Linked DNA regions of Homo sapiens. The protein of the gene in region 1 purifies or fractionates together with the protein of each later gene. This does not show direct contact. Each region holds a gene or a part of one and is shown on either strand. Other genes may lie near its edges.

Region 1 (7,026 bases):
TCTATCCAGTCGAACACCCGCTGGTTACTGCTGCCCTCCTTCAGCAGCTTCTCCAGCTGCCTGTTCAGCTCCTCGGAGGGGAGTGCCCTCTGGCCAGGGGCTTCCGACTCCTCTCCCAGGGTATACTCCACCTTCTGCAATGGAAAAGGCCCGCAGTTAAGAGGTAAGGTTGCCAACAGGAGACAAGAAAGAAGACTGGCCAGCCTCAAATGCTAGAATTAACCCAACTCCATCCCCAAACCTGTTCAGCGACGAATGCACCAATGTCCTGGCCTTCAGGTAGAAATTCCTTCCAGCTAAGCCCGGCTTCTCGCCACAGCGTCCCCACCTTTTTAGGACCCTGGAAAACACAAGACCAACCCAGCTTACCAAAGCTCTCTCTCTCCAAGGACCCAACAGCTCTACCACATTAATCCAACAAATATTTACTGAAAGCCTACTAGGTACTTGCTAGGCATTAAGGATGCTATAGAAATACTAATAGGCAAAGCCCTTCCATTCCTACGGTCTGGTGCAGGGCACAGATGTCAGTCAAATAACCACCCAAATAAATAAGAACTCGTCCCAGGAGCGGGCGGTGGCTCACGCCTGTAATCCTAGCACTCTGAAAGGTCGAGGTGGGCGGATCACCTGAGGTCAGGAGTCGGAGACCAGCCTGACCAACATGGTGAAACCCCGTCTCTACAGAAAATACAAAAATTAGCCAGGCGTGGTGGTGGGTGCCTGTAATCCCAGCTACTCGGGAGGCTGAGGCAGGAGAATCGCTTGAACCCAAGGCGAGGGTTGCAATGAGCTGAGATCACGCCACTGCACTCCAGCCTGGGCGACACAGCGAGACTCTGTCTCAAAAAAATAATAATAATAAAATAAAATAAAAGAGAACTTGTCCACCAAAGTGCTATGACACTAGGGTAGGAAAAATGATGTAAGGGCCTCTAGGAAGGGACAACTTCTAACAAGTATGCTTGTTTCCTAAACCCAGAAAATCTTAAGACACAAATATACCCCATCCCTAACACAAATAAAAAATCCTCATAAAACCAGCAGTCTGAGTGCATTTTCTGTAAGGGGCAATAGACTATGAAGACATCACTCTTTTCTTTATAACAGACTAATGGCACTGGCTCTTAGCAAGATTATTGCAGTTCACAGATTTTAAAACATGCCCATTTTTTCACATTTTAACTAAAAGTTGTCTTACAGCCGATATATATCTTTTTTTATTTTGAGACAGAGTCTTGCTCTGTCGCCCAGGCTGGAGTGCAGTGGCACAATCTTGGCTTACTGCAACCTCCCCCTCCTGGGTTCAAGCAATTCTCCTGCCTCAGCCTCCCAAGTAGCTGGGACTACAGGTGCGCACCACCATGTCCAGCTAATTTTTTTGTATTTTTAGTAGATACAGGGTTTCATCATGTTGGCCAGGCTGGTTTCCAACTCCTGACCTCACGTGATCCACCCACCTCTGCCTCCCAAAGTGCTGGGATTACCACGCCCGGCCCAGTCTTTTCTTTCTTAACAGCGCATAAAGAATGTCTTATAATCTATGGCACCTTGGAGTTGATGAAATACACAAATAGTTCAATATGCTTATTTGTTGTTAAAAAACAACTTGTCCTGGTACACGTCTATTTAAAAGAATTAAATGATGTTGACATAACAATTCCTTTAAATCCCAAGTGTGATTCCTCCAGGTTCCAGATGGCTGAACCCTTGAAACTGCACACACTCACCCCAACTTCTCACTTCCACTAAGTACCACATTCAACTTACCTTTCCCCATCTCTTTACCTTTATATTCGCTAGTTACCAATTAACTTTCACAAAGCCGCTTCAGCACCCTGAAAGCCTCCTGTCACAAATATTGTCAAATATTCCTTTGCAACCCCACAGTACTTAAGATACTCCACTCTATTTCAACTGTTTTATGTCACGCTTTACTGTTGTTTTTATCAAGCTGTCATTTCTTTTTTCTTTTTTGGAGACAGAGTCTTGCTCTGTTTCCCAGGCTGGAGTGCAGTGGCACAATCTCGGCTCACTGCTACCTCCGCCTCCCGGGTCAAGTGATTCTCCTGCCTCAGCCTCCTGAGTAGGTGGAATTACAGGCACCTGCCACAACACGGCTAATTTTTGTGTTTTTAGTAGAGATGGGGTTTCACCATATTGGCCAAGCTGGTCTTGAACTCCTGACCTCGTGATCCACCCACGTCGGCCTCTCAAAGTGCTGGGATTACAGGCGTGAGCCACTGCGCCCGGCCCATTTCTTCCTTTTTCTCTACCAACTTGTTTCTTGTGTTTTATTCATTGCTGTGTCCCTAGTGCTTAGTATATGATAAATGATCATCAACAAAACCCTAGTTCAATGAATGAATAAATAAATGCATCAATCACAGGCCTAGGGTCTTAGACTGCCATTCTCCTCCAGTCTTGGCCAGAACTCATGATAGGAACTGGTGTGCGGGAGATGGCCCACCTCAGTATTTCCTCTCCCAGGTACCAACACAATCCTGTCATCACCATCACTCCACTCCACCAATGGACCATGAAGCTTCAGGGCCACAGCAAACAGCCAAAACCACACCGTGGGAGGCATCTCTGGACTCCTGGCCCTCACTCACCATGCTTTTGCACAGGAGGCCCAGGATCTCCAGCAACAGGGAAGCAGCTTTGCCCAACGGTCTCAGAGGCTTTGTAATCTCCCTACAAGAAGAGAAAAACCTAATGCTGACAGCCTCCACAGTTCTCTCACCACTACTCCATCTCCCTCCAAACCAGGGTATCCAACCCAGCCATTTCCCTACCACCTTTCCTCTGGTCTTTACCTCCCCTGAATTCCACCCAGGGGGACTTACCTGAACAGCTCCCCCATGGGCACCCCACCTTCCTGCAGAATGGGTGTTACCAGTTCCGCTAGGTAGAGCCACACGTGGGGGATGTCAATTTCCATGTCCTCAGCCAATTCCAAGATTTCATACAACCTGCCAAGGGAATTCAAAGTCAAGACATTCTAGGCCAGGTCCCCACTCTCCTTCTGGGGCAACGTGGCATGGCTAGGGCATCAACTATGGAACCCCCAGGAACATTTTCTAGACATGGGGACAATTATTTCAAGCTAAGGCCACCTCTGTGTCCTTAGATGGTTTTCACCCCGCTTAACCCCCTAAAGTTATGCTGACCAGGATGGTCAAGGAACCCATACTGTTTTTTGGTTTTTTTTTTGAGACAGTTTTGCTTTTGTCACCCAGGCTGGAGTGCAATGGCACGATCTCGGCTCACTGCAACCTCCACCTCCCGGGTTCAAGCAGTTCTCCTGCCTCAGCCTCCGAGTAGCTGGGATTACTGTGCCACCACGCCTGGCTAATTTTTGTATTATTAGTAGAGACAGGGTTTCACCATGTTGGCCAGGCTGGTCTAGAACTCCCAACCTCACGTGATCCTCTAAGGAATCCAACCCACCTTGGCCTCCCAAAGTGCAGGGATTACAGGCATAAGCCACCACACCCGGCCAGGGAACCTACACTCTTATGCAAGGTTCCAAGGGTCCCAAAAAGGAGATAGAAAATTGTGGGTCTGTATAAGTGGGAGGCCCAGAGAAGCTGGTCATACCCTTGGTAGTACTGAGCAGTAGACAGATGCCCAGCACAGAGCAGCTGGTGCAGCAGCTGCCCCATATGCTCACGAGCAATGGCACTGCGCTCCAGCGTAGACTCGACACCATGCCGTACAAAGATGAAGAGCAAGGAGGGTGAGGCCAGCTCCTGCACGCACTGGACTGCCTCCTGAGGGGTGCAGGGCACAGCAGGAAGAGACCAGTCACTGTCTGACCCAGACCCCGGACCCCTATGCCTGCCAGCATGATCCCTCCCTGCCCACTCCTCAATCACACGCCGCTCCCACTGCCTACTTTCATGTCATTGAGATGGAGATATTCCTCAATGATAGCCTTGGATTTCTTCTCTAACTCCTCCTCAGAGAGAGCCGCCTTCAGGGGGCTCACTGGGGGTAGGGCAGCTTCTCGCTTCACTGTGGGAAGAGAACACAGATTAGAGGGACTTTTCAGTCTTCCCAGCAAACAAGATTTGGAGCTCTCAAAAAGCTGGGGACCAGCTAGTCCCAAGGCAGCCAATGCCTTTCCCTCCATTCCTCTCCCAGACTCTCACCGGCATCCCGCCCACGGTCCCGATCCTCCGTGAGGCTAGCTGCCTTGCGCAGCCCCTCAGGCTGGGAGGGCCGTTCTCTACTCCGCTCCTCCACTTCCTTGCTGAAGCTCCGCTTGGTAGCAGGTGTCCGCGCACGATCAAGCCGGTCCCCACGGTCCCCTCCCCGTTCACTCCGCTCTAGGCGGTCTCCTCGGTCTCCAGCTTTCTCGCCTCGTTCTCGGCTCAAGCTACTCCTGGAAGACAGACAGACAAATTTTCACTCACTTGCACTGCCCAGGCACTCATGTAATTACACAACATGCTGAGCAACTGTTGGGCCTTGTTCTTAGCATAATGAGTATGCCCCAATCTAACCCAAGGGCTCCAACCAGGACAGGTATGAAGAAATTTCCAACCTATGGCAACAACCAGAACCCAATCACGGTACCCCCAGTGTGAATAACAAAGATGTCCAGGAAACCTCACCTCTGCACCACACGTCTATTATCTGTGCTTTCTGTGGGTACCGCTTGTTGAAGGGCTGAGAAGCGATTCAAAGTACTAGTAGCTGGGCGAGCAGCTTCTGATGCTGGGGATGCAGAAAATCCGTATTAAAATCTTTTTCTCCTTTCCTGCATTTTATCCCCTACTTGCCAGTTTAGGACACTTGGTCCCAGTCCCAAAAGTAAAGCAGTTCAATCCCTGGAACCACAACACAAACCTCCTCTATTGCCCGCATTGCCTAACCACCTTGTACTGAAGGCCTCCCTAACAGAAAAGGCTCTGTCCTCAAGGGAGCTCTGACGGGTAACCACCCAGCTCCTGACACTGCCTCCATACCTGCGTCTGAGGGCTTGGCTCCTGAGCCTCCGCTGCTGCCCTTGCCCCAGCTCAGTCGCCCTCCAGGTGCAAAGAGCTGGTTGTTAGAATCGATGGAGCCAGGCTGAAGAAGAAAAGGGGAGTAGAATCATAGGTCCAACCCGGCTGAGTCCCTTGGCCAGCACCACCATATGCAACCAAACAGGTAGTGAATGGCCCAGTCCAGGGGTCAGAAAATCTTTTTTAATAAAGGGCCAGTCTCTATTGCAACTACTCAATTCTGCCACAGTAGCATGAAACCAGCTGTAGATGATAAAGGCATGCTGTGACTGTGTTCCAATAAAACTTCATGGACACTGACATTTACATTTTATTTAATTTCCACAGCATAAATTACCATTCACTTTTTGATTTTTCGCAACTTTAAAATGTAAAAACCACTACTGGGTCCTGGGATGTATGAATGGGCTGGATCTGGCACGTGTGTGTGTGTGTGTGTGTGTGTGTGTGTGTTTGCCAAACACTGGTCCAGACTAATGGGAGTACCACCCTCCCTCTACAGCTGGCAGTCCTGTCTCCAGCAATCCAACCAGTTAGTCTAAGAGGAAACATTCAGCTGTCACCTTCTCAACTTTAGAAAAGTGAAGGGACTAAGATCTAAACCTGAGCTGAATCACCCACTCCCACACACACCCCTACCTTGGTGATCTTGGTGAGTCGTGAGGTGTCAATGGGGCGGCTACCTTTGCTGATGGGAACTGTGTTCCAGCCACCATCATCCACAAGGGGAAGTCCACGGCCTGACACAAAAAGAGGGGCATACTGGAATAATGAATAAATCCTAGCAGCCCCTTCCCCTTGGGCCACCCCCAGCCTCCCTTCCTCAGATCCTCAGTTCCATCATGGTGTCTCAGTGGCCCAGACACGTGGCACTAACAGGAAGTCATCAGAGGAAAGTATAACCTCCCGGTCCCTTCACTGCTCCCTTCTCAATCCCAGCTTGGAACTCACTGATGGGAGGGCCTGGAGGACCGCCCCGACGCTTGTCACTGCCCTTGGCCATGAGCTGCTGCACTTTGATGTGCTCTCGATGTTCTTCCATCTCAGCCTCCTTATGGATCTGGTCAATGGTCTTGGGACCCTGATCCCCTCGGCGTGGCACCCAATTGCTCTGTGGAGACAGAGGGCCAGTCACGATGATGTCAGGGAAGGCAAGACAAGGCAGTGTCAGAAACTGGAGGCAGCAGGCTGGCAGTGGGGAGGAGGGGGACACACACCCCTCGCAGATCCAGCACGTCCTGCAGCATAAAGCGGATGCGGGATGACGTCTTCTTTTCTTTAATGATTTTTTCCATCTGGTTGAAATACTGATCCATTCGGGGCTAGGAAGGAGAAAGGCATCAGACCAGGAACTTCTCATGTCCCACCTATAACTGCAGGCCCCACCCCTCCTCAGGCCTTCCGCCCCATCATTGTGGGCTCAGTGAGCCCCACATATGCTTCAGCCCATCCCCCTCCAGATGCAAGGACCTCTACCTTGGCTTTTTCAAAGTCCAGGTCTTTGCCAATGGTGGTGAGCAGACGACAAAGGCACTCAAGGGACTCTTCATCATGGTTCTTAAGCAGTTTGACCACACAGTCATGCATTATTGCCTCTGTTAACATCTTCAGTTTGAACAACTCTCCAATAAACTTGATATTCCCTAAAGAGCGCCGCCGGGCTATGTCCCGAGCCTCTTCCAGCTCTTCCTTCAGGCGTCCTCGTTCCTCTGCCTGCCATTCACAGGACAGGGATTGTGTCAAAAAGATAACCAGCCACTCGGCTAAAACCCTTTTCTACCTGGATATCCAAACCTAGCAATAAGCACTCAGTCCTGAGGCCGGCTGGCTGGGCATAGTGGCTCATGCCTGTAATCCCATCAATTTGGGAGGCTGAGGCAGGCGGATCACTTGAGGTCAGGAGGAGTTTGAGACCAGCTTGGCCAACATGGTAAAACCCCGTCTCTATTAAAAATACAAAAAAATTAGCCAGGTATGGTGGCACATGCCTGTAATCCCAGCTACTTGGGAG
Region 2 (6,724 bases), on another chromosome or scaffold:
ATGAGTAGTGCCACATTAGCAGGATGTCTGAGGAAAGAGTCTAGGTAAGAAGTTAAAATACTTGGCCAGGTGTGGTGGCTCACGCCTGTAATCCCAGCACTTTGGGAGGTTGAGGCAGGTGGATCACCTGAGGTCAGGAGTGCAAGACCAGCCTGGCCAACATGGTGAAACCCCGTCTATTAAAAATACAAAAATGAGCCAGGCATGGTGGTGGGCACCTGTAATCCCATCGACTCAGGAGGCTGAGGCAGAAGAATCGCTTGAAAGGTTGCAGTGAGCCGAGATCACACCATCGCACAGCAGCCTGCAGGACAAGAGCGAAACTCCATCTCAAAAAAAAAAAGGCCGGGCGCGGTGGCTCACACCTGTAATCCCAGCACTTTGGGAGGCTGAGGCGGGCGGATCACGGGTCAGGAGATCAAGACCATCCTGGCTAACACGGTGAAATCCCGTCTCTACTAAAAATACAAAAAATTAGCGGGGCATGGTGGCAGGCGCCTGTAGTCCCAGCTACTTGGGAGGCTGAGGCAGGAGAATGGCGTGAACCCGGGAGGCGGAGCTTGCAGTGAGAGCCGAGATTGCACCACTGCACTCCAGCCTGGGCAACAGAGTGAAACTGTCTCAAAAAAGAAAAAAAAAAAGAAAAGTTAAAATACTTTTTAAGTTTGGGTCACTGGAGCAAGACAAACAGTGAGATGTGATGGTAGCATTCTCTAGAATGTCCTCCCTGCAATTGCAATGGATGGTGTAGCCCAGACTTTGCCTGACTCCAGGAAAGCAGCTGGCCCTTCTCAAGACCAATTCGGCTGTCCGGACCTGCGGTTTTGACTTTGGGGGCAACATCATCATGTTCTCCACGGACAAGCAGATGGGCTACCAGTGCTTTGTGAGCTTTTTTGACCTGCGGGATCCGAGCCAGATTGGTGAGGGCTGGGAATAGGGCTGGGGTTGAGGTAAAGGGTACAGTTCTAGAGCCCAGGGCCTAACATCTACTGCCCCACACAGACAACAATGAGCCCTACATGAAGATCCCTTGCAATGACTCTAAAATCACCAGTGCTGTTTGGGGACCCCTGGGGGAGTGCATCATCGCTGGCCATGAGAGTGGAGAGCTCAACCAGTATAGTGCCAAGGTAAGAGGCCACATGGGGCCTGAGCCTACCAGAATAATTTTTTTTTTTTTTTTTAAGATAGAGTCTCTCTCTGTTGCCCAGGCTGGAGTGCAGTGGCGCCATCTCGGCTCACTGCGACCTCCACCTCCCTGGTTCAAGCAATTCCCCTGCCTTAGCCTCCCGAGTAGCTGGGATTACAGGTGCATGCCACCGCACCTGGCTAATTTTTTTTGTATTTTTAGTAGAGACAGGGTTTCACCATGTTGGTCAGTCTGGTCACGAACTCCTGACCTCAGGCAGTCCACCGCTCGTGGCTTTTTTTTTTTTTTTTTTTTTTTTTTGAGACAGAGTATCACCCTGTCACCCAGGCTGGAGTGCAGTGGTACGATCTCGGCTCACTGCAACCTCCACCTCCTGGGTTCAAGCCATTCTCCTGCCTCAGCCTCTTGAGTAGCTGGGACTATAGGCACCTGCCACCATGCCTGGGTAATTTTTGTATTTTTAGTAGAGATGGGGTTTCTCCATGTTGGCCAGGCTGGTCTTGAATCCTGACCTCCTGACCTCAGATGATCCACCTGCCTCGGGTCCTGGTGATAGCACACTAGTTCAGAACAAGGGCAGGGCTGTATGCTGTGGCTCACATCTGTAATCCCAGTGCCTTTGGGGGCCAAGGCAGGAGGATCTCTTGAGCCCAGGGGTTGGGGCTGCAGTGAGCTATGATTGCACCACTGCACTCCAGCCTGGGTGACAGTGAGACCCTGTCTCTAAAAAAAAAAAAAAAAAAAAAAAAGTTAATAAAAAATTTTAAAAAGAGCAGAGGTGAGATTCAAATGTAGATTTCACCACTTTCTAGCTGTGTGATCTTGGGCAATTTACATGACTTCTCTGACCCTGTTTATCTGTAAAATGTTTCAAGGATCAAATGATATCACATGTTTGAAAAACTTGTCACAAAGTACTCAGGACATGTTAATAAGGATCACAGGCCGGGTGTGGTGACTCACACTTGTAATCCCAACACTTTGGGAGGCTGTGGCAGGATTGCTTGAGACCCGGAGATTGAGATCAGCCTGGGCAATATAGGAAGACCCTGTCTCTACAAAAAAAAATTAAAAATTAGCTGGGTGTGGTGGAGTGTGCCTTTGGTCCCAGGTACTCAGGATGTTGAGGCTGAAAGATTGCTTGAGTCTGGGAGATTGAGGCTGCAGTGAGCCATGATTGTGCCACTGTACTCCAGCCTGGGTGATAGAACAAGACCCTGTCTCAAAAAAATAATTAAGGATCACAAATGAGCATTTCCTTGCCACCACTGAGTATAATGCCCTGTATAATGCTGAGTATAATGCTGAACTCCTAGAACAAAGAAGTAAATCAGATGCAGTCCCTTCCCCCATGGGGAGACAGACTTGCAAACAGCTAGCACCTGAGTCAGATTGTGAATTGTGCCACCATAGAGGTCTCAGCCAAGTGTGGAAGGTGCACTCTCCCAGGGAGGTGGCGTGTACATTAAACCCTGGAGAATAAATGGAGCTTCAAGCAGGAAGGAAAGAACATCCCACAGGCAAAAGGAACAGCAAAGGCAAAGGCACAGAGTTAAGAAAGTATGGAGTCTTCAGAAACCCTTGGGGTGTGGTCTTGGGGACAGAGGACGGGGAATAGATTTTAAACGTCCTTCAGTGTGAGGAGGTAAAGAGTTTTGACTTTCCTCCAGGCAGTAGGGAATCTTTAAAGGGTTATCAATGGCCAGATTTTCCTTCCAACAGCTTTTGCAGTTTATGTTTGGAGAGTGAACCTGAACTAGCCAATAGGCATAGGATGTACATTACTGGACAGAGTCAAGGGATATTTAGGGGTGACTGATAGGATAGAGGGGGTGAGGAAAACACAAAGTCCATGCTGTCTCAGCTTTCATTTGGGTGCTTGGGTTTCTGGGGAGCTGAGATTAGTAGGGATTGGGCCCATTCAGTGTCACTCTTCTTCCTTCCCTAGTCTGGAGAGGTGTTGGTGAATGTTAAGGAGCACTCCCGGCAGATCAACGACATCCAGTTATCCAGGGACATGACCATGTTTGTGACCGCGTCCAAGGACAACACAGCCAAGGTGAGCCTGGGCAGCGGTCTGGCAGGGCTGCTCCCTCCCTCCGGCTGCACAGCTCACCCTGCCCGACTTCCCCCAGGAAAGCTCTTTACAGATTTCCCCCCTGCCTTCTCTCTCCAGCTTTTTGACTCCACAACTCTTGAACATCAGAAGACTTTCCGGACAGAACGTCCTGTCAACTCAGCTGCCCTCTCCCCCAACTATGACCATGTAAGAGAACCCCACCTGCCTTCCTGCTGAAGCCTCAGGAAGCTTCCAAGTTCTAGATGCTTGTCCAGAAGTTGGGCTACAACATTGTGGGGGAAATGATGTCAGGCAGAGAGGAGATGCCCAGAGGAGTGACAAAGCTGGAAGGATTGAATAGCCCCAGGGCAGCCAGCAGGAGGTGGCAGAAGTGTCTGATCATCCCCTACCTTTGGTATCCTCCCATTGAGCCGTGTGAGATGTTAAAAATGTATATGGCAGCAGAAAAACACAAAATGGACTTGGTGTCCATTGGTCCCATCTAGAGTTTCTTCTTCCATTCAGGTGGTCCTGGGCGGTGGTCAGGAAGCCATGGATGTAACCACAACCTCCACCAGGATTGGCAAGTTTGAGGCCAGGTAAAGAAGAAGAGAGCTCTTCCAAATTAAAATCTCATGTGGTGTACCTTTTTTGTTTGTTTTTGTTTTTGAGATGGAGTCTCGCTCTGTCGCCTAGGCTGGAGCGCAGTGGCGTGATCTCTGCTCACTGCAAGCTCTGCCTCCCGGGTTGACGCCATTCTCCTGCCTCAGCGGCCCAGGCGCCCACCACCATGCCTGGCTAATTTTCTTTTTGTATTTTTAGTAGAGACGGGGTTTCACCGTGTTAGCAAGGATGGTCTCGATCTCCTGACCTCGTGATACGCCCGCCTCAGCCTCCCAAAGTGCTGGGATTACAGGCATGAGCCACCGTGCCCAGCCTTTTTTTTTTTTTTTTTTTTTGACACGGAGTCTTGCTCTGTCACCCAGGCTGGAGTGCAATGGCGCGATCTCTGCTCACTGCAACCTCTGCTTCCCGGGTTCAAGCAATTATCCTGCCTCTGCCTCCTGGGTGGCTGGGATTACAGGCACCCATGACCACGCCTGGCTAATTTTTGTATTTTTAGTAGAGACAGGATTTCACCATGTTTGCCAGGCTGGTCTTGAACTCCTGGCCTTAAGTAATCCGCCCACCTTGGCCTTCCAGAGTGCTGGGATTACAGGCATGAGCCACTGTGCCCAGCCTTCATTATATTTCTCTATGTCTAAATTTCCTCTACTGTATAATGAGACAATGACAATATACTTAACATAAAATTATGCAGATTAAATTATTCAGTTAATATTTATTAAGCTCTTTAAGCACTGCCCAGCACATAGTAGGCACTCTATAAGTATTAGTTATGTATTCAGGCAGACATCTGGGTCCAGTCTTCCCCATATAATAAAAAAGTTAAAAAAGTAAGAGACAGGGTCTCACTATGTTGCCCAGGCTGGCCTCGAACTCCTGGGCTCAAGCAATCCTCTGTCCTCAGCCTCCCAAAGTGCTGGGATTACAGGCGTGAACCATGGCACGCAGCCACCAATTTCCATCTTATTTTGTTCACATTCACTTCTTATCTCAATTTTTCTGCTTTATTATTATTATTTTTTGAGACAGGGTCTCACTCTGTTGCCCAGGCTGGAGTGCAGTGGCACCATCTCTGCTCACCGCAACCTCCTGGGCTCAAGCGATCCTTCTACCTCAGCTTCTGAGTAGCTGGGATTACAGGTACATGGCCACCGTCCCTGGCTGCTTTTTGTATTTTTAGTAGAGATGTTGGCCAGGCTGGTCTCAAACTCCTGGCCTCAAGTGATCCACCCGCCTCGGCCTCCCAAAGTGTTGGGATTACAGGCGTGAGCCACTGCGCCTCGGCTTCTGCTTTATTTTTTGTGATACAATTTGCATTTGAGGCCAGGTGTGGTGGCTCATGCCTGTAATCCCAGCACATTGGGAGGCTAAGGAAGGCGGCTTGAGGCCAGGAGTTCGTAACCAGCCTGGCCAACATGGTGAAACCCCATCTCTACTAAAAATACAAAAATTAGCCAGGCATCTGTAATCCCAACCACTCAGGAGGCTGAGGCAGGAGAATTGCTTGAACCCAGGAGGGGGAGGTTCCAGTGAACCGAGATTGCGCCACTGTACTCCACCCTGGGTGACAGAGTAAGACTCCATCTCAAAATAAATAAATAATAATAACAATTTGCATTTGGGGAGTGCCACCTCCAAAGTGTTTTGGAAGAAGATAGAAAGTGAATTAATTGTGTCCCTTTTCCTCCAGGTTCTTCCATTTGGCCTTTGAAGAAGAGTTTGGAAGAGTCAAGGGTCACTTTGGACCTATCAACAGTGTTGCCTTCCATCCTGATGGCAAGAGGTAGGGTACCAGTGAAGCAGCTGACCTAAGCCTGGGTTGGGTCTCTGCCTTTCCCAGAGTAAGCACCTGACTGGTGCCTGGCTATCTTTTTCCAGCTACAGCAGCGGCGGCGAAGATGGTTACGTCCGTATCCATTACTTCGACCCACAGTACTTCGAATTTGAGTTTGAGGCTTAAGAAGCTGGATCTCCTGCCGGGCGTGGTGGCTCATGCCTGTAATCCCACCACTTTTTTTTTAAGGCAGGCGGATCACCTGAGGTCAGGAGTTTAAGACCAGCCTGACCAACATGGAGAAACCTCGTCTCTACTAAAAATACAAAAATTAGCCAGGCATGGTGGCACACGCCTATAGTCCCAGCTACTCAGGAGGCTGAGGCAGGAGAATCACTTGAACCCAGGAGGCAGAGGTTGCAGTGAGCTGAGATCACGTCATTGCACTCCATCCTGAGCCACAAGAGCAAAACTCCGTCTCAAAAAAAAAAAAGAAGAAGGTGGATCTCCAACCAGGCCAGAGAAGATTCTCACAGAAGGTTTTGAACTCTAAGAAATAAATTGGTTTGGTAATAAATGGCTTCTGGTCAGATATTTTGTGGTGTCTGTTTCATCATTTTTCCTTTTCACTGACACCCCAGCAAGCTGATGCTGATCATGGAGACTTTTATTATTGAGACCTCCCTATACTTTGGACACTTCAAACTTAAGACCCTCAGTACTTTTGGCTAACCTGGGTTGCAGGCACCCTCATCCAAGGTGTAAAGGTCCTAAGGGGCCTGCAGAGGTTTCAGGAACATCTCAGCTGCTATCCAAGGAGCCAGTGCTTAGAATAGGGGCTCGGCTGAAGCAGTTGGCTGAGAGGCTTCTGTCTTCTCCCTTCCTGTCACTATTTGCCACACTCTTCCCCCATGCAGCTTCTGCAGGCTCAGGTGAGCAGGTCCAGCGCAGAAACAGGCCTGAGGAGGAGGAAGACAGGTCAGGACGCTGAGCAGAGGGGTAATACCCAGGGGAGAAGGTGTGGAGCTCACCTTGCCACAGCCGCAGGCTCTGGGGCTCCACAGATGGCCAAGGGATTGAGGAGGTAGAGTGGGTTCTGGAGTCTTTGTTG

The links. The genes of interacting proteins can lie anywhere in the genome.
Region 2: the proteins of EIF4G1 (region 1) and EIF3I purify together in Homo sapiens (affinity purification with mass spectrometry; 7 studies listed by BioGRID and IntAct, with this or other methods). This does not show direct contact.

Annotation. Positions count from the first base shown.
Region 1 is NC_000003.12:184,324,580-184,331,605, reverse strand, and holds part of EIF4G1 (eukaryotic translation initiation factor 4 gamma 1), read right to left. Parts: intron 6,729-7,026; coding exon 6,492-6,728; intron 6,338-6,491; coding exon 6,233-6,337; intron 6,127-6,232; coding exon 5,967-6,126; intron 5,911-5,966; exon of another isoform or gene 5,835-5,910; intron 5,756-5,834; coding exon 5,655-5,755; intron 5,080-5,654; coding exon 4,977-5,079; intron 4,726-4,976; coding exon 4,623-4,725; intron 4,391-4,622; coding exon 4,158-4,390; intron 4,021-4,157; coding exon 3,902-4,020; intron 3,777-3,901; coding exon 3,604-3,776; intron 2,976-3,603; coding exon 2,850-2,975; intron 2,698-2,849; coding exon 2,616-2,697; intron 341-2,615; coding exon 242-340; intron 135-241; coding exon 1-134.
Region 2 is NC_000001.11:32,225,398-32,232,121, forward strand, and holds the end of EIF3I (eukaryotic translation initiation factor 3 subunit I), read left to right. Parts: intron 1-773; coding exon 774-923; intron 924-1,005; coding exon 1,006-1,133; intron 1,134-3,101; coding exon 3,102-3,212; intron 3,213-3,329; coding exon 3,330-3,419; intron 3,420-3,737; coding exon 3,738-3,811; intron 3,812-5,529; coding exon 5,530-5,622; intron 5,623-5,717; coding exon 5,718-5,799; 3' UTR 5,800-6,207; downstream 6,208-6,724. UniProt on the Homo sapiens protein: Component of the eukaryotic translation initiation factor 3 (eIF-3) complex, which is required for several steps in the initiation of protein synthesis.